Linked DNA regions of Homo sapiens: regions 2, 3 and 4 are each linked to region 1. Evidence: fine-mapped expression QTL. A gene starts in region 1. Each other region holds a variant in brackets. All regions are shown on one strand. Distances are from middle to middle. Region 1 holds the start of PELATON (plaque enriched lncRNA in atherosclerotic and inflammatory bowel macrophage regulation). Region 2 holds the start of LINC01270 (long intergenic non-protein coding RNA 1270). Region 3 overlaps PELATON (plaque enriched lncRNA in atherosclerotic and inflammatory bowel macrophage regulation). Region 4 overlaps PEDS1-UBE2V1 (PEDS1-UBE2V1 readthrough).

Region 1 (4,813 bases):
GGACAACTCTGGGGTCTGAGGCCTGGCCCACTGGGTGGGTGGCAGTGCTGTCTTCTCAGCTGGGAAAGACATCCATGTCTCCCAGTGGGGTGCGCCCCTGGGACACCCATGGACAGACTGACAGAGCCCGCATAAAGGCACGAGGGACCCCGCACAGCTGAGCTCACGGGGCAAGGGTCAGATGAAGGCAGGAGAGGGGTCGTTTTCAAGGCCCAAGGAGGAACGGGCAGGGAAGTAAGAGGAGAACCAGCGAGACCAGCAAGCCGCCATCAAGAGGCTGGGGAAGACTGTGCTCAAGGAGGGGGCAGTTACCCAGGGGGCAGACGCTGCCAAGAGGACCAGCCAGAGAAGGCCGAGCAAACCCAGGCCCACTGTGCCACTTAGGCCGTCAGTGAGACTCCAGCTGGTGGCCAGCCCAGCCGTGCCCCCATCACCTTCGGAGCCCACATCTCTTTGGAGCAGCCAGACAGGCTGAACCCTAATTGGCCTGAGTCAGCCACGGGAATTCCTTTCTGGTTCAAATGTGGACATGTGAGCCCATCATTCCATGAGACACCAGGGGACATCCACTGGGACATGTAAGAAAAATTGTTGGCTGGGCACGGTGGCTCACGCCTGTAATCCTAGCACTTTTGGGAGGCTGAGGTGGGTGGATCACCTGAAGTCAGGAGTTTGAGACCAGCCTGGCCAACATGGTGAAAATTCATCTCTACTAAAAATACAAAAAATTAGCTGGGAGTGGTGGCCCACGCCTGTAATCCCAGCTATGTGGGAGGCTGAGGTAGGAGAATCGCTTGAACCCAGGAGGCGGAGGTTGCAGTAAGCCGAGATCGTGCCATTGCACTCCAGCCTGGGCAACAGAGCAAGACTCTGTCTCAAAAAAAAAAAAAAAAAAAAAAGTGAGATCCTGGAGGAGAAAGTCCCCTTTTCTGTTCATCTCTTCCTAGTTAGGATGTGATCATGTGGGACGTGATGTCTTGAGCCACAGCAGGCACTGGGGCCCATGAAGAAAGAGAAGTGAAGAGATGCCTACCTAGAGCGCAGGGAGCCTGCCCTGGAACACTGGAATGGCCCCACGTTAGACTTCATGTTATAAGATTTAATTAATATTTTTACTGTTGCAGTCATAGAAGATGGCCTAATTGGGGCAAGAGGAAACATAGGAATGAACCTGAGACAGGGGAGAAAATGGAGAGAGGAGGGATGAGAGCTGGAAGGGGGTCAGAAACACCCAAGCACGGGGTTCAGATGCACAGCAGGCTCCCTAAGTGTGAGTTGCTGTTTCTGCAAACAGGAGTTGTTCCCTGAGCACCTACTCTCTACCAGGTACATTTCCAAGCCCTGGGTGTCCATCAAGTCCTTTAATCCTCCCAGCAGTGCCAGGGAGGCTTCATCTGCTCCCCACATCTCTGCTTCCCCCGCCCCATGTTCAGATTCTAAAAAACCAAAAGGGCTCCCTCTAATTCATCTCGCCCCCAGAGAGCACTGACTCCCCACGGTGTCCCACTGAGCCCCACTGAGTCCAGTCCACCTCAACTTTCCTGCCTCTGGGAACAGGGTACCCACCCTCTGAGGGCCCCACTTCCCAAAGTTCTTTGTCCTGGCACAGCAGGTGCTGAGTAGCTCCCTGGACCTCTGTTTCCGCATCTGTAAAAAGCCACTAATCCTAATTGCACCTCCTAGGCTGATTGTGATGACCCAGGAAGGACCCTTGACCCAGTGTCTGGCCTGTAGTAGGGCTCGGTAAGCGTGAAATCTGATTATTGCCCATTATATTTATGGTTATACACAGGGCTGGCCCTGCCTCCTGCTGGAGCCGTGGGTCTGTCCAGGTTGAGAAGCTGAGGTGCTTGGAGCGTCCCCAGATCCCAAACAGGGAGCTGGAGTAGGAGGCGGGAGCATGAAGTCTCCTGGGCCCCGCCCGCCACCTCGCCCTGCCGCCCCTGCTCAGCAGCCGCCCCGCCCTGCCACCTTGGTCTCTGAGAACCCATTGTTCCTACCTGGCTCTGCTCCAGGGTCCTGGCCTTGCCACTTTCCTCTAGGATCCCCCGCCACCCCCGGGGCTTGGGCCTCCCCGCGGGGTCCTAAATTGGGTGCCAGATGTGGCAGCTGTCCAGCAATGGGAACAGGAGCTGGAACCCCAGCTCTGCCACATCCCAGCTGTGTGACCTTGGGCGCTTCCCCTCTCTGAGCCTCAGCTTCCTTGTTGGTTAAATGGGATGACGGGACCTCACAGGGCTGTCATGAGGGTTTCGTGAGCCCAGGATGGCAGAGTGCCCAGCATGTGGTAGGGCTCGGGAACATTCATCCTAATTTCTCTGCTCCTCACGGGCCTAGAGGAAGAGCCAGGAACATCAGAGGCAGTGGCCAGAGTGGGTAGAGCACTGGAAGGGGAGTCTAAGGCCAGGGTCCCGGCTCCAACCCTGCTGTGTGACCTCGGGCAGGCTGTGGGTATCTCTGGGCCCCAGAATGAGGGAAAGAAGTAGCTGGGATCCTCCTTCCTCCCCAGGAAGCAAAGCAGAGGGGTGGTGCCAAGTTTTCTTTTCATTTTTTTTATTTTCAGCACAAAGGGCTCAAATGGAAAGCAGCTGCAGAGACAGAGAATCCGATTGTGAAGGCACCCGAGACTCCAGGCAGGCGGAAGAGGCAGCGTCTTGGGTGCTGGGCTGGGTAACAGAGGCCAGGGTATTGACCAGAAACTCCAACAAGCAGGGGACAGCTTGGGGGGTGGGGGGTTGTCTCCCACCCCTTCTTCAGGGTGCTGGCCTAGGAGACAGGGACCCCGCCTCGGGCATCTCCTGCTTAACCTCAGTTTCTGTGTCCAGACATGGGCAGGCCATCCTGACTCTCTTAGCCTTGGTTTCCATCTCCAAAATGTGTCCAGTAGTGGCACCTTCCTTCTAGGGAGGGGTTGTGTGGTTAAGGTCTCGGGGCGGGCTCCTCAGTCAAACAGGCTTGGCTTTGATCCTGCCTCTGCCTCTCACTAACTGTGTGACCTGGAGTAAGCCACCTCCCCTCCCTGTGCCTTGATTTTCCCATCTGTGAAATGGAAACAATAATAGAACTAATCTGCTGGGGAGATGAACTGAGAAGACTCAGCCTGGTGCCTGGAGCAGAGTAAAGACTAATGATTATTGTTGTCTTTCTTTTTGGAGGCAGAGTCTCACTGTGTTGCCCAGCCTGGAGTGCAGTGGCAGTGGCGCGATCTCGGCTCACTACAAGCTCCACCTCCCAGGTTCAATCATTGACCCTCCAGCCTCAGCCTCCCGAGAAGCTAGGACTATAGGCTCACACCACCAGGCCCAGCTAATTTTTTGTATTTTTAGTAGAGACCAGGTTTCACCATGTTGACCAGGCTGGTCTTGAACTCCTGGCCTGAAGTGATCTGCCTGCCTTAGCCTCCCAAATTGCTGGGATTCCAGGTGTGAGTCACCGCGTCCAGGCATCTTTCTTATTATTATTATCCCAGGAGCTCCACCTGCTAAGGCCCCAGCCTCAGAAAGCCTCCCTTCCCCTGAGTGCTGGTTCATCTCAACAATTTCCTCACATATTTCTTGAGCAGCAACTATACCGGTCTTGGCAAAGCCAAGGTTCTATCTAGGAGAAGAAAGACATTAAATGAAGGACCCGTGTGTGAAGGGCTTGGTGAGTAGCAGGGGCTCATTGACACTGTTCACCAGCACCTGCCCCCTCAGCTGCTCTGTGCTGGACTCTTTCTGGGCTCTGGGGACACAGTCTTCAGGGGAGTCCCAATCAGAGGGTCTGGGTGGAGGTGAGAAGCTGGTGTGTGGATGAGGCAGTTTCTCACACTGTGGCAAGGTCTGTGATGGAGGAAGTCCAGGTGACTTTGGGAGCTAGAGGTCAGGATGGGCTTCCTGGAGGAAGTGGTTAGGAATGAAAATAACATCTATTCAGCATTATTATTATGATGTGTCAGGCACTGTTCTCTCCTCAACACCCCGCTCCAGAAGGTTTTCTTCTCACACACCCATTCTACAGGTGAGTCTGGGATCAAAGAGGCCCAGTAGGGTGTCAGAGGTCACGTAGCCAAGACATGGCAGAGCTGAGATGAAACCCCGCAGTGGGACACTGCCCCACTTGCCCCCCGACAGCGCTCTCCAGCCTCCAGGCCTTTGCTCCAGCTCTTCCTTCTGCCCAGACATTCCAGACCCTGCACCGTCTCATATCCACTCTGCTGGAGGAATGAAGAGAACAGCCCTTGGAGGCCGCAAAGTGTCCTCAAGCCTCAGTTTTCCCATCTATGAAATGGGGATAGCATGGGGCTTTCCTCTCGGGCTGCAGAAAGGATCGAGAAAAGGCTTATTATTCACCTAGGGCCTAGCCCTTGGGAACCAGTCCGGAAGGACAGCTGTTATTATTGCTAATGCTGTTCCTATCACAGTGACAGCGTGTCCCGTTAGGCCTGCAAACCCCTATACCTCAGTTTTTCCTGTAATGAAACCTGCCTGCTGAGGCCTCGGTGAGGGCTCATTTAATGATAATCTTTAGGGAAAAAAAATACACCCCCCAAGCCGCCTGTGTGGCTGCAGCCCACAGGGGTAACCTGACGCCCCTCGCCTGACCTGGCCCCCAGGTCTTTGTGTGAGTCCTGCCCAGATTACTGTATTTGTCCAAACCCAAAGCCAAGGCTGGCATGAGCTCAATGCTCTGCATTGTGCCAGAGCCAGGCCCCCCAGGCCTCATCCCTCCTCCCGCTGGGGATCCGGCCCCCAGGAGGTGTCACAGGGGAAATCGGAAACCCAGCAGGGCCCACTGGGGTGGCCTCCTGGGTGCCAGGCCCTAGGCTTACGCT
Region 2 (4,813 bases), 24 kb before region 1:
GGTCCTGGAGCCAGACTGCTCAGTGCGTTAGGCAGGTGACTCAGCCCCTCTGTGCCTCAGTTTCTCCAGCTGTGAAACAGTCCACATGGCACCTCCCTTGTCGGCTGCTGAGGAGACGAAAGGAAATTATTTCCAGTCAAACAGAGTGCTCTTGTTGCATGCCCTTGGGAGAATTCATTCCCGCTCTGAGCCTCAGTTTCCCCATCTATCATATGGGGATTAAACTACGCCACTGTGTTGCATCGCTGCGAGACTAACGTGACGTATTTGCACAGTGCCTCCCGCACAGTGGACGTTTACTCAGAGCTCACTGTTCATTCACTCCAGTCCTGCAGGCCTCACTGTCCCCATCTGTAATCCCAGAAGGCAGCCCTGATCACCCAAGACGGCTGCTAAGTCCCTAGTGCAAAGGTCGAGGGGTCCCAGGGCAGCCCTGACAACTGGGGATATCCTGGGGGTGGGGAGGACAGCTGAGTGGCCGGGATCAGGAAGCTGCAGGGGGCCCAGGTGACTCACCCGCTGGCGGGGCTTGGGGGCTGGGCTGCGGCCCCCACGCACCCCTCTGGGCCCTGCCTTGTGCCCAAAAGTGCTGTGTCATGCTCCGTCATGTGGCTCCGGGTCATTAATACCCGAGTTCTGGGAAGCTTGGGCCGAGTTCCCGGAAGGGGTCAGCCAGTTCAGTAAACAGATTGGCTGGTTCGTCGTCACAGCTGAGCCGGGCGGGCCTGCAGCTCAAGAGGCAGGAGATGGAGGCTGGTGGCCAAGGGGACACAGGAACTGCCCCCGGCCCCATTCGGGGCTGGCACCTCCCAGGGCAGCCTGGCCCAGGCTCTGCAGATGAAAGGAGAAACCAAGGCCCAGAGAGGGCAAGGCAGTTGCCAGAGATCACACAGCAGGTCCGGGGCGCGGACCTAGAATTCTGGTCTTATCATCCAGTGCTCTCAGCATCACTCTGACTGATGGGCAGGGGGGGACAAATCACCTCAAATTGTAACCTAAGCCCCCCAAGCCCCCAAATCCTAACCTGGACCCTAAGGCCAGTGTGTTGGATGAAGGGAGAAATAAATGGAAGGCAACTTGGGAAGGAAGCAACTTTGAGGGGTTACTGGGCTGTCCCCTGTGGTCGATCCTATAATCATAGTAACTGCTTCTAGTGTTTCTTGAGCATCTATTATGTACAGGGCATTACCATAAGTGCCTTCCATAAATCCACCCATTTAATATTCAGCCACCTTTATACGAATAAACACAGGCATCACGTTTAAAGCATCCACTGAGTGCCAGGCACTGAGCTGGGTGATTGACATACACCACCCGGGATCCTCTGCGGACCTTGCCAGGGAGGCATCGCCGTCACCCCTGTTCATCAGATGAGGAAACAGATGCCCAGGAGGGCGAGCAGCTGAGGTGTATGGTGGGAGAACAGCAGGCTCCAGAGTCGACTAGACCCAGGGATTCAAATCTTTACTTTTACCCTTCCTGCTGTATGGCCTCAGGCAAGTGACTCCACCTCTCAGAGCCTCAGTTTACCCATCTGGTAAATGGGGATGATTATGGTACTGGAAACACTGGAGCCAGACTTGGTGGGAGCTCGTGAGTGTCATGATAGGGCAGTGGCTGGAGTGCAGACTTTTGGGTTGAATCTTGCTGTGCCCCTTCTTGGCTGTGTAACCTCGGGCATGCCGCTTAGCCTCTCTGGGACTCAGTGTCCTCTGTAAAATGGACATAGCACCTCCCTCATGCGGCAGGTGGGAAGAATGAATGAGCAGAAATCCCCGCAGCCTTCTGTGCGAGGCCAGGTATTCTGCAGCCACTGAACGCAGGTGACTTGTTCTTATATTTCACCTATGATGGCTCCACTGGGACTGGGGTGAGGGGAAGGACACTAGACCATGGGCAGAAGGACAAGGCACCCACATTCTTTGCTGCCCTTTTGCACCCACAAACAATCTGGAAAGGGAAGCTCAGCCTTGCCTGCCTCCTTGAGG[G/A]TCGGGGCTGAGGCTTGGCGTGAATGGTTGCCATGGCATCCTCCCCACCTCCCCACCAGCCACTCTGCCTTGCTATGGACTCCACGTTCCTCCCCTACTTAAAACCCTCTAGGGCTCCCCATTCCTCTTCTCGTGTACTACTCCCCAGTTTGGCTGAGCCCCAGACAGGCCTTATCATGGCTCTTTGGTTCTTGGCACCCCAGCCCCAGCCCCCTTGGTACAAACTCTCACACTCATCATTCCCACCTCACCCTTGTGCACACACAGGGCCCTTCACCCGGCATGCCCTCACTTTCCCTAACCCACCTGCCTGGTCTGGATTTCACCCACCCTTCAACGCACGTATTCAAAACCTCCTCCTCCAGGGAGACTGCCCTGATCCTCCCCTTTGAAAGCGAACTCTTTCTAGACTCTCTCTATATATATACCTCACTTACGTCTTTCTATCATTATATATCAACTATTTTTGTCCACCACCTCAAATTTTGGCAGCTGTGAGGTAGAAAATTTGCACAAGGGAGATTTTGGGGAAAAAATATTGCCTCTAAAATACTTAAAGAAATCTGCTGGCCAGGTGTGGTGGCTCACTACTGTAATCCCAGCACTTTGGGAGGCCGAGGCAGGTGGATCACTTGCAGTCAGGAGTTGGAGACCAGCCTGGCCAACATGGTGAAACCCTGTCTCTATCAAAAAATACAAAACTTAGCCAGGTGTGGTGGTGCATGCCTGTAGTCCCAGCTACTCAGGAGGCCGATGTGGGAGAATCACTTGAACCCGGGATGTGGAGGTTGCAGTGAGCTGAGATTGTACCACTGCACTCCAGCCTGCTAGGCGCGACCCTGTCTCAAAAAAAAGAAAAAGAAAAACCTGCTAAGTTGAAATTTTAAAATCTTTAATTAACCCACTCACACTTTATAATTCTATATTAAATTTCTAATTTAATATTTACAAAAATATTACAAAAATTTTCGAGGCGTTTGTAAACAATCTGCGAGTGAGAATGTTTCTTGTTGGGCAAGCGTTCCCTGGTGTACGCAGGGTTGCCAAGAACCCGAAGTAAGTGGTAAAATAAACGCGCTGCTTGTTGCCACACAATTTCAGAAGTGAAGTTACTAATATTATTGAAGTGTTTGGGTGATTTTTCCAACCCTCTTTTGGGTCCAGTCTGACCTTCCGTGTCCGTGTATTCCCCATCATCCTCATCAACCCGTCTCCTTCAACTCTTTTTCCAGTTCCCCGTCTTCTTACCTCCCTCCACCTGGAAAACAGTCTTCCATATTCCCGCCACACATGCTCGCTCACACTCCTCCGCCCCCTGCAATGCCCTCTCCTCTTTTTTGTGGGAATCTGACCCTTCTTCACAGTTGAGTCCAAGCACCACCTCTCCAAGTCACCCCGTCCAGCCCCGATCCAGGACCATCTGCCAGGCTCGGAGGCAGCTGTGCTAACTCTCCCCGCCAGCTCCTTACCTGCAAAATAGAAGGGCTGCAGTATCACAGAGGCCTCAAACTCACGGCCTTCAGGCCAAACCTGGCCTGATATTTGCCCTAACATTTAAATATCAACAGGTTTCATATAGCAATCTAGATCAAGCTTGTCCAACCCGCGAACAACAGGCCACATGTGGCCCAGGATGGCTATGAATACGGCCCCACACAAATTCATAATGTTTCTTAAAACATGAGATTTTGTTTGCGATTTTTTCTTTTTAGCTCATCAGCTATCGTTAGTGTTAGTGTATTTTATGTGTGGCCCAGGGAAGCCAAAAGGTTGGACACCCCGATCTAGATTTACAGCTTCTCATGAAAAACTGTCAGTCCCGGCTTCCCACGGGGCGACACTGGCAGAAACTGAGCAGCGTCCACCCCTTTAGACAGGCCTGCACCCCTCTCCCACCACTTCACCATGAGTGCTGCTTGCCCAGCCCTGGCAGCACCTGAGTTTGGCTTTTTTCAGTCTCAGAATCCCTTCTTTTATTTTATTCTAATTTTTATTATTATTTATTTATTTTCTTTTAGAGACAGGGTTTCGCCATGTTGCCCAGGCTAGTCTCTAACTCTTAGGCTCACACAATCCTCCCATCTCAGCCTCCCAGAGTGCTGGGATTACAGGCATGAGCTATCGCGCCTGGCTGTGAGGCTGCCTTTTGGAACCAGTCCTCCAATGAGGCTGATCCTCTGACTCCCTTGAAAAAGCATCTTAGAGTCTCCTGGTCTGCTGGCAAGGAAAGGCCGCCTGCCCACTTGTTCCCATCTGCACCGGTAGAAGAGACCCTTCCCCAGTGTACATCCTCTGGACACTTAAATTCTTTGAAGCACAGTGTGAAAAACTCAGCACCCCCTGAGGCCAGGTTGTGACCACGCCAGGTTCTGGGCCCTGCCCTAGACCTATGAAGTTGGCCCCTCAAACCAGTTCCCCATCTCAGCAAACGATAGCGCCTGCATCCACCTATCCACTCCAACATCTCCCTCGCCCAATCCAACAAATCCTGCTGGCTTTGCCTTCCAAACAGAATCCAGTCCCTTCTCCCACCTCTGCTGCCATCGCCCTCCTTTTGTCCTAGACTAGGGGAGTCATCTCTGCTGGGTTCTCTGCTCTCATCACAACATCCTGGCCCCCCACAGTCCACTTGCCCCATTTGCAGCCAGAGAGATCCTGCACCCAGGACACATTCCGCAATGTCTGGAAATAATTTTAGTTGTCACAGCTGGGTTTGGGGAGGAGGTGCGACTGGCAACCTCTCCAGTGGGCAGAGGCCGGGGACGCTGCTTAACATCCTACACTGCACAAGACGACCCCACTACAGAGCAGCATCCAGCCCCAAA
Region 3 (4,813 bases), 11 kb before region 1:
CAACTCCAGGACCCAAGCCAGGGGTCTCTGCCTGCATCCCCTCCTGGGCAGTGGGTCAGATACACAAGGAAGAGAGAAAGAGGTATAGACGAAGACAGGGACTGAGAAATACAAGGAGACAGAAAGAGGCAGAAACAGAGAGACACAGAGAGAGACAGAACTCAAGAGGGACAAACTCATCTCCCATGCCTCCCTCCCTCCTGGGGGCCTTGGACCCTCCTTGCCAGCACCCCTGACCCATTCCCACCATCACCATTGACTCCCTCCAGGAAAAGATTGATCCACTGCCCCCCACCCCACATGGTCCTGGGCTGGAATCCCAGCCCAGATGCTGACCTCTGTGTGACATCAGACAGGTGACTCTCCCTCTCTGGGCTCAGTCTCTCCATCTGTGAAATGAGAACGCCAACCAGGGCAGTTTTATTGGCTGCTTGATGAGAGGGGGGCCTGGGCCTGACACCAACAAGCACCTAAGAGCCCTGGGCTGGGGGCAGGAGGTGAGCTCAGGGCTCCTCTCCCCGGAGAGGTCACTATTCATTTATTGGTTCTTTTAAGAAACATTTATTAAGCACCGACTGTGTGCCAGGCATTGCACTAGGTGCATAAGGTAGACAAAAGTCCCTGTCCTGAAGGAGCTAATGTTCTACTGGGGAGATAGGCAAGAACCAACAAGCAAATTCATACGAAATGTGCCAGGTGGAGAGAAGGCAACCAGTGGGGTAGTGGGGGTCGATAAATCCAGGCAAGTTGAGGGGAGGAAGTAAGGGTGTAGGGTGTAGGGTGGCCAGTGCAGGGAAGCTCCTTCGAATTCTTGTCATTTCTCCAGAGGCCATGACAGTTTTTATATTTAAGCCAGCTGCTGATGGTGGGGGACTCATTATCGATGCTCCCTGAGTTTCCGGCTCCCTGCAGGGCACTCTCATCAATTTCATCACATTGAATCTCCTCTGCAACCCCAGAAGACAGGTACTCATTTTCATTTTTATTTATTATTAGTATTGTTATTTTTAGAGATGGGGCCTCAATCTATCACCCAGGCTGATGTGCAGGGGCATAATCATAGCTCACTGCAGCCTCAAACTCCTGGGCTCAAGCAATCCTCCCGCCTCAGCCTCTAGAATAGCTGGGACTACAGGCACACACCACCACACCCGGCTAATTTTTTTAGAATTTTGTAGAGACAGGGGTCTCACTATGTTGCCCAGGGCTGATCTCAAACTCCTGGTCTCAAGCAATTCTCTCGCCTCGGCTTCCCAAAGCGCTGGGGTTACAGGCATGAGTCACCACACATGGCCAGAGACAGGTACTCTTATTGTCCCCATTTCCCAGATGAAGAAACTGAGACCCAGAGAGATGAAGTGACTTGCCCAAGGTCACATTGCTGGAAAGGGGCAGAGCCAGGATTCAAATGGGGCCAAACAGGGATATAATCCAAGGTGAGATGGGCCGATACGATACCAGGGCAGGGGCTTGAAGGGGAGACAATCAAGCAGGGAACAGGGCTTATGCCAGAGCCCTCAGCAGCCAACAGGTTAAGGGCCCGGGAATCTGGGTCTCTGGCCCCAGATAGGGTGACAGCCACACCCAGGCTCAGCCTCTGGCCCGCGCCGCCTGCTGGGAACACACAGTCCTCAGGACTAAGAGGCTCAAAATAGAAAGTGCAGGACCTGGGTCGAAGCCTGGAATGCCCCAGGCAGGCAGACCATGACTCCTGGAAGGGCCCAAGGCTGCAGGGCTGGGGCTGGCGGGGCGAGAGTCACTGGTATCCACTTGTTAGAGCCTGCGTCTCATCTTTGTTATTCTCCTGATGCAGTTTCCAAGACGCCAACTCCAGGATGTGACCAACCCGGGCTCCTCTCCTGGCCTAATCTCAGACCAGCTGTGTGGCCTTGGGCTGGTCACCTACCCCAGAGGACCTCAGTGTCCTTATCTGCCATCGGCTCATAGAGTTGTTCATTCAGGCAGTCAGCCAATGTGTGTCGAGCACTTACCATCTGCCAGGCACTGGGATGGCACTGGGGGCACACAGAGAACACAACAGACAAAAATCCCTGCCCTCATGACTAGGTAGAAAGACCCTACCTTGCTCAGAAGGAAGTCGGGGGGGTGGTCAGGGATGGCTTCCCATGTGGGCACCCGAAGGAGTTGTGGGAGGGAGCCCTGTGGATGCCTAGGAGAAGTGTTCCAGGCAGAGGAAACAGCCAGTGCAAAGGGCCCGGGGCAGTGTGGGCCTCAGGCTGTTTCAGGAGCAAGGAGGAAGCCAGCATGGCTGGAGGGTGAGTGAGGAGGAAGGCTGGGAGAGGAGACAGAGGGAGGTCAGAGAGGAGGCCCCGAGAGCCAAGGAAGGAATCCGAGGGTTTATTCTCCAAGCAACAGAGATCCCTTAGAGAGGACTTTGCTGTGGACTGATGTGGGCTGGCCCACAGTTTTAATAGCTCCCTCTGGCTGAGTGTGGAGAGGGGATTTCTGGAAGACCAGGGAAGAGACTTCTGTGCCAGCAGAGATGAGCAGCAGTGGTGGCAGTGGAGGCAGAAGGAAGGGCTTGGGTCGGGGGTCTGTTTGCAGGAGCTGCTGGGAGGA[C/A]CTGCCGAGGGAGAGAAGGGAAGAGGGCATGGGTGGGGGTTGAACAGAGACCCCCTCCACCCTCCAGGCCTCAAGGAGCCCCACAGGAAGTGGGTGGTCAGGCGGCCCAGCTGGGAAGGCTGACTGGTTTGTCCAGCCTGAAGCCCACGACCCTCTCCCCACCCTCTGCCCATGGCAGCCCAGGGCTAGAAATGTACCTGGAATGTCAGCCATGAAGCCCGGCCAGACAGTGCCCATGGGACCTGCTGGGGGCCAGGTGAGCACCCTGGCCACAGCCCTGCCTACAAGGGTAATCTCTCGGACCCATTGACCAGGGTAAGTGGTAATTACAGGCCCTGGAGCAGAGAGGGTGGTGACCTCCAGCCAAGACACGCAGGGACTGCGATTCGCACGCAGGACCCCTAACGAGGCACACCCTCTTTGTTGCTGAACAGGCAACAAACTGCCCCAGAGACCAGGGCGTGTCAGCAGAAAGAGCACTGGGCTATGAGTCTGAGACCCCCAGGGCCTTCTCTGAACCTTAGCCCCCTCATCTGCCAAAGAAATACTTATCCATGCACGCACGCTTGCATTGCTTCCCAAGTGTTTACTGGGCACTTGTCCTGGACAGGCGCTGTGCTGGGGGCTGGGTGTACAGCAGTGAACAAAACACACAAAAATCCCCACCTGGGCGATGGTGACATTCCACTGGAAAGAGACAGACAAGAAACAGGATATACCAGCAGGTTAATTTCTAGGATACGTGCTAAGTCCTAGGAAGAAATAAAAACAGCATGAGGCCATAGGAATGAGGGGCTGGTCAGAGAAGGTGTCCCCAGGGGTGACTTTGGAGCAGAGGCCTGACCCTAGACAAGGATCCGCCATGGGGAGAGCTGGCGAGAGTGTCCTCTGTTCCAGAGGGAAGAGTGGGTGCGAAGTCAATGAGGCAGCAGCAGGATAATTGGCAAGTTTATGGCAGAGAGATGAGGCCACCGTGGCTGTGGGTGAACAGAGAAGGGAGAGGCAGTGAGGTCAGGCGGGGCCAGGGCAGAGATCCTGCAGGCCCTGTGGGCTTCTGCTCTGAGTGAGTTGGGAGCCATAGAGGGTTCTGAGCAGAGAAGGGATAGGATCTAACTTGAGCTCTTACAGAATTCCTCTGGCTTAGGAAGGCGAGAGAGGAGGCAGGGAGACCAATGAGGAGACGACTGCAAACATCCTAGCTGGACCAGGGCAGGGCAGGGTAGTGGGGGTGGACCCTTGGACATGTGGATGAGTTTGCTGATGGGCTGACCATGGGAACAAGAGGGAGAACCCAGGTTGGGGGCCTGGGCAGCCAGGTGGCTGAGGTTGCCATCGCTGTAGCAGGGAAACTGCAGGTTTGTGGTGGGGGTAGACAGAGCTCCCTCTGAGCATGAGGCCCCACCCAGAGTAAAAGAAGGACTCCCAGTCCACACACCCCTGCCTCAAGCACAGATCAGTGAAGGGATTCTGTGGACAGGTGGCCCTGGAAGCTGTGATCTGCAGGGGCGAGGTGCCTGCTGTCTACCTGGTGAAAGTCCTACCAATGCAGCTCTTGAGGCTGCCCAGTCTCACACCCCAGGGAGCAAACTTGGCACCTGTTCTTTGCCCTACCCTGAACATCCGCTGGGCTCCCGGGGTTGGTCCCGATGTTCATTTGGAATCTCAGGGGTGATGGGTGGGGAAGGTGGAAAAACGCTGTACCTCTTTCCCACCCATCCCTGTCCCCCGTCAGCCAAACAGGGCTGAGGACTCGCGATCATTCTTCCTCTGCGCCCCTGTCCCCATACCTCTCAGAGACAGCGTGACTTGTGGCCTCTGCAGCCAGGAACGTGCTCTGGTCCCGTCATCTCACACTGCCCCATCCCCCTCATAGTCACTTGGTTTTCTGCACGTAAGTTCCCTTTTCATAGATGGAGGAACTGAGGTTCCGAGAGGTGGGGCAGGCTCCCAAGTTCACACTCAGGTTAAGTGGCAGGGGCGGGATTCACACTCAGGTCCATCTGATTCCAAAGCTCTTAAGCCCTGAGCATTATAGCTGCTGGCTTAGGTCGGCTCCCAGAAGCTGACCCAAGACAAGGTTTTGGGTGCAAGTGGGATATTTGGGAGGTGATTCTAGAAACACTGGGAAGGAGTGAGGAAGTGACACAAGGAAGGTAGATGAGCAGGTCTCCTCAGTGGGCAACAGGAGCCCAACCCCCTAGAGGCCTCTGGGACAACTCGCAGAAAGTACCTT
Region 4 (4,813 bases), 170 kb after region 1:
AGTTGTGCATCCGTCACTAATTTCAGAACGTTTTCATCACCTCAAAAAGGAACCCATACCCATCGGTAGGCACCCCCCATTCTCCCTCCCACATCCCCCATTTCCCATCTTTGACAATCATCAGTCTACTTTCTAGCTCAATGAATTTGCTTTTTCTGAACATCTATTATAAATGGAATTCTACAGTATGTGGCCTTTTGTGACTGGCTTCCTTTACTCAGCATAATTTTTTCAAGGTTCAAGCATATTGTAGCATCTATCAATACTTTTATTCTTCTTATGGCTGAATAATATTCCATTGTACAGATACGCCATATTTTGTTTTTCCATTTGTTGATGAACATTTGGGTTGTTTCTACCTTTTGGCTATTATAAATAATGCTTCTAGGAACATTTATATACAGGTTTGTATGTGGACATATATTTTCTTTTTATTTTTTTATCTACACCTGCTGGAATAGATGGACATAGTTGTTTTTAGCTACCTAATTTTTCCTCCTTTGAAGATGGACATATATTATATATAATTATATATTATATAATGCATTATATATTATATAATGCATTATATATTATATAATGCATTATATATTATATAATGCATATGTTATATATTATATATACTGTATATTTATATAACATATATGATATGTAATATATATTACATATAATTATATATAAGATATATAATTATAATATATAATATATTTTTATTTAAATAAAAGCAAATCCTCCAAGCCTATATATATTATATATATAACATACATAATATATTTTATATATATATATTTTATTATTATTATTATTATTATTTTTTTTTTTTTTTTTTTTTTTTTGAGTTGGAGTCTCGCTCTGTCTCCCAGGCTGGAGTGCAGTGGCGCAATCTCGGCTCACTGCAACCTCCACCTCCCGGATTCAAGCAATTCTCTGCCTCAGCCTCCCGAGTAGCTGGGATTACAGGTACCCGCCACCACGCCCAGCTAATTTTGTATTTTTAGTAGAGACGGGGTTTCACCATCTTAGCCAGGCTGGTCTTGAACTCCTGACCTCATGATCTACCCACCTCGGCCTCCCAAAGTGCTGGAATTACAGGTGTGAGCCATCGCGCCCTGCCGGAGATACATTTTTGAATTCCCCTGGGTGTATACCTAGGAGTGGAATTGCTGGATCATATGGTAACTGTGTTTAACATTTGGAGGAAATGCCAAACTGTTTCCCAAAGTGGCTGCACCATTTTACATTCCTACTAGCAATGCCCGAAAGTTCCCATTTCTCCACATTCTCACCAACACTTGTTATTGTCTTTTCACCCTTGTAGTTTTTATTATCCTGGTTCCCCAAGGTCAGAAACTAAGTCATAAAAGGAACTATCTGTGTGTAGATGCTTCCTGTGACCAATCTTTCATGATTAGCACATGAGCTATTTGCTGTGTAACTCGAATATCCACATAATTATTAAAGCATCTAAATAGAGCACTTGAGTAACTCATCTCCCTATTAGGTTTTTGTTATTGTTTTACTCAAAAGAACATTTTCCATCAAAATTTCAAAGGTCTATACCATGTGATCCAGGAATTCTTCTAGGAATTTACTTTCCAATTTCTCTTGAATGTATTGCCCAAAGGCAGTGTACAAAATTATTTCATGCAGCATTGTCAGTAGTAGCAAAATATTGGAAACAACATCATTGTCTTTGAGTATACCATATTATGTCCTGTTTAGCTGTTGAACAATGAGACAGATTTATGTGTGCTGAAATGGAATGATCTCCATGATATTGTGAAAAAGTAAATTATAAAACAGGAGACAGAGTATGCTGCCAGTTGGAGTGGGGGGCCTTGGGTGCAGAGGAAGAGCTCATGCATACACTGCTTCTGTGTGCTTAGAATACCTCTGGAGGAATGGGAAAGAAGCTGCTGACAGTGGTTGTCTTCTTCAGAAGGGAGCTGGCTGGCTAGGGCTGGAGTGGAAAGGAAACTTACTTTTTACCATATACCCTTCTGTACTCTTTGAATGTTTTAGTCATATGTGTGTGCTGTTTGAATAGTGCCCCCACCTTTTTTGTTTGTTTGTTTATTTAAAGAAAAGCAAATCCTCCAAACCTAAAAACAAAGCTTCTGAGCCAACTGCTCCTTGCACAATTCTGGCAAATGTCTAGCTGTCCACAGCGTTAGACATGGAATATTTCTACTTTGACCACAGAAGTACTAACAATAGTCAAGTTATATAGAGCAGAGTTTCTCAGACGTGGCATGTAGGGCTGGTTCTTTTCTTTGTCATGAGAGTGCTAGGTATGTGCGTTGTAGGCTGTTTAGCAGCATCCCTGGCCTCTACTCACTAGAAGCCAGCAGTACCCCCGTCTCCATTGCAGCAACCATAAATGTGTCTAGGCAACGCTTGATCCTCCCTTCCCCTTCCCAGCAGAGGGGCAAAAATGGCCCTCATCGAGGAGCACTGTTGAGCCTCTGGGGTTCTCCAAAATAGTGTTTTTTCTGTTTTTTTGAGATGGAGTCTTATTCTGTTGCCCAGGGTGGAGTGCAGTGGCGTGATTTCAGCTCACGGCAGTCTCTGTCTCCCGGGTTCAAGCGATTCTCCTGCCTCAGCCTCCCTAGTCGCTGGGGTTATAGGCACATACCACCACACCCGGCTAATTTTTATATTTTTAGTAGAGACAGGTTTTTGCCGTGTTGGCCAGGCTGGTCTCAGACTCCTGACCTCAGGTGATCCGCCCACCTTGGTCTCTCAAAGTGCTGGGATTACAGGCA[T/C]GAGCCCACCACACCCGGCCAAGTGTTTTATGTGTGGATTAGAGCCTGGATGTGTGTTTATACCCTGGAGTACTGGTACCCATGCTTCAGAGGAACTGAACATAATTACAGGGGTGTAGGAAGTAAAAGAAAAGTGATCCTTTCTCTGATTCATTATGCTCACCATCGAATGAAACTTAAGTTGGTGTGTGGTGTGGTTCTACCCACTTTTGCTGTGGGTATGCAAACGTAAATATATATCTTTTTAAGAAAAATGGGATCTTCCTATGCATAATGTTTTACAACTTAATTTTTTTTCACCTAATAGATGGTGGACATCTTTCTATATCAGTGCATATTGACTGATCTCTTTTTTAAAAGCTTTGAGGCGGGGCGTGGTAACTCACGCCTGTAATTCCAGCACTTTGGGAGGCCAAGGCGGGCAGATCACCTGAGGTCAGGAGTTCAAGACCAGCCTGGCCAATATGGCGAAACCCGGTCGCTACTAAAAAAGTATAAAAATTAGCTGGGCGCGGTGGCAGATGCCTGACTCAGGAGGCTGAGGCAGGAGAATCACTTGAACCTGGGAGGTAGAGGTTGCAGTAAGCCGAGATCGCGCCACTGCTTGCAACAAGAGCGAGACTCCATCTCAAAAAAAAAAAAAAAAAAGCCTTAAGTTATATGACTGATTAATGAATATGAATATATTCTTGTAAAAATTTTTAATGACAAAAGCCCAGGTGTGGTGATTCACGCCTGTAATCCCAGCGCTTTGGGAGGCCGAGGCAGGTGAATCACTTGAGGTCAGGAGTCGAGACCAGCCTGGCCAACATGTTGAAACCCCATCTCTACTAAAAATACAAAAATTAGCTGGGCGTAGTGATGCACGCCTGTAGTCCCAGCTACTCAAGAGGCTGAGGAGGGAGAATCGCTTGAACCCAGGAGGCAGAGGTTTCAGTGGGCCAAGATCATACCACTGGACTCCAACCTGGGTGACAGAGTGAGACTCTTGTCTCAAAAAAAATTTTTTTTCCAACAATACAGAGTATATAGAATAAGAGGTTAACTTAGTCCCGCTTTAACTCTGTGTCAGTCAGGAAAAGAGAAATCATACCAGCTAATTTTTTTCCCAGCTTTATTGAGATGTAATTGATAAATAAAAGCTGTATATATCCAAGGTATACAGTGTGATGATTTGATATACATTGTGTAATGATTACCACAACCAAATTAATCAACGCATCCATCACCACGTGTAGCTACCTTGTGTGTCTGTGGTAAGGACACTTAAGATCTACTCTTTTACCAAATTTCAAGTAAACAATCCAGTATTATTAACTGTAGTCACCATGCTTTACATTAGATTCCCAGAACTTACTCATAACTGAAAGTTTGTGCCCTTTGACCAGTATCTCCCCTTACACCCTGGTCCCTGTCAACCACTGTTCTGTTCTCTGCTTCTGTGAGTTCTACTTTTAGATTCCATGTATAATTGAGATCATACACTTTTTGTCTTTCTGTGTCTGGCTGATTTCACTTAGCATAATGTCCTTCAGGCTCATCTATGTTGTCATGACTAGCAAGATTTCTTTTTTTTTTTTTTTTTGAGACAGAGTCTCGCACTGTTGCCCAGGCTGGAGTGCAGTGGCGCCATCTCGGCTCACTGCAGCCCCCGCCTCCCAGGTTCAAGCAATTCTCCGACTGGCAGGATTTCTTATTTATGGCTGAATAATATTTCATTGTGTGATATATGCCATATTTTCTCTAGGACATTTAAGTTGTTTCCATATATTGGCTATTGTGAATAACTGCAATGAGTGTGGAAGTGCAGATGATCTCTTTGAGATACTGATTTAATTTCCTTTGGATTGATACCCAATACTAGGCAACAGAGATAATTTAATATAGGAAGTTGATCAAATAGATGTTGGACTAAAAAATCAAAGAAGGCACAATATGAGAACACAGAGATACTGCTGCAGAAACAGTAACCACCCTCTGGGTTTGGGAGGCCAGCAGAGGAAGCTTGGGCTGTCAGAACCTGGCACTTGGGGAAAAGGTGCCCCCTC

What was found.
Region 2: its variant is fine-mapped to the expression of PELATON in whole blood (TOPMed, PIP above 0.99).
Region 3: its variant is fine-mapped to the expression of PELATON in whole blood (INTERVAL, PIP above 0.99).
Region 4: its variant is fine-mapped to the expression of PELATON in whole blood (TOPMed, PIP above 0.99).

Annotation. Positions count from the first base shown.
Region 1 is chr20:50,264,851-50,269,663 of GRCh38, reverse strand. PELATON (plaque enriched lncRNA in atherosclerotic and inflammatory bowel macrophage regulation) reads right to left here and starts at 2,186. Exons shown (of 4, transcript NR_170992.1): 1 at 2,001-2,186.
Region 2 is chr20:50,288,534-50,293,346 of GRCh38, reverse strand. LINC01270 (long intergenic non-protein coding RNA 1270) reads right to left here and starts at 627. Exons shown (of 5, transcript NR_034124.1): 1 at 517-627. RefSeq lists an enhancer at 338-1,074. The variant G/A (reference allele first, on the strand shown) is at 1,989.
Region 3 is chr20:50,275,945-50,280,757 of GRCh38, reverse strand. PELATON (plaque enriched lncRNA in atherosclerotic and inflammatory bowel macrophage regulation) reads right to left here. Exons shown (of 4, transcript NR_170992.1): 3 at 3,145-3,267; 4 at 970-2,581. Among named protein-coding and RNA genes, the nearest start is that of PELATON, 11 kb to the right of the region's middle. RefSeq lists enhancers at 1,452-1,746, 2,749-3,286. The variant C/A (reference allele first, on the strand shown) is at 2,581.
Region 4 is chr20:50,090,011-50,094,823 of GRCh38, reverse strand. The region is part of intron 6 of PEDS1-UBE2V1 (PEDS1-UBE2V1 readthrough); the gene reads left to right. All of the region lies in intron 2 of UBE2V1 (ubiquitin conjugating enzyme E2 V1), which reads left to right. Among named protein-coding and RNA genes, the nearest start is that of UBE2V1, 21 kb to the left of the region's middle. The variant T/C (reference allele first, on the strand shown) is at 2,766.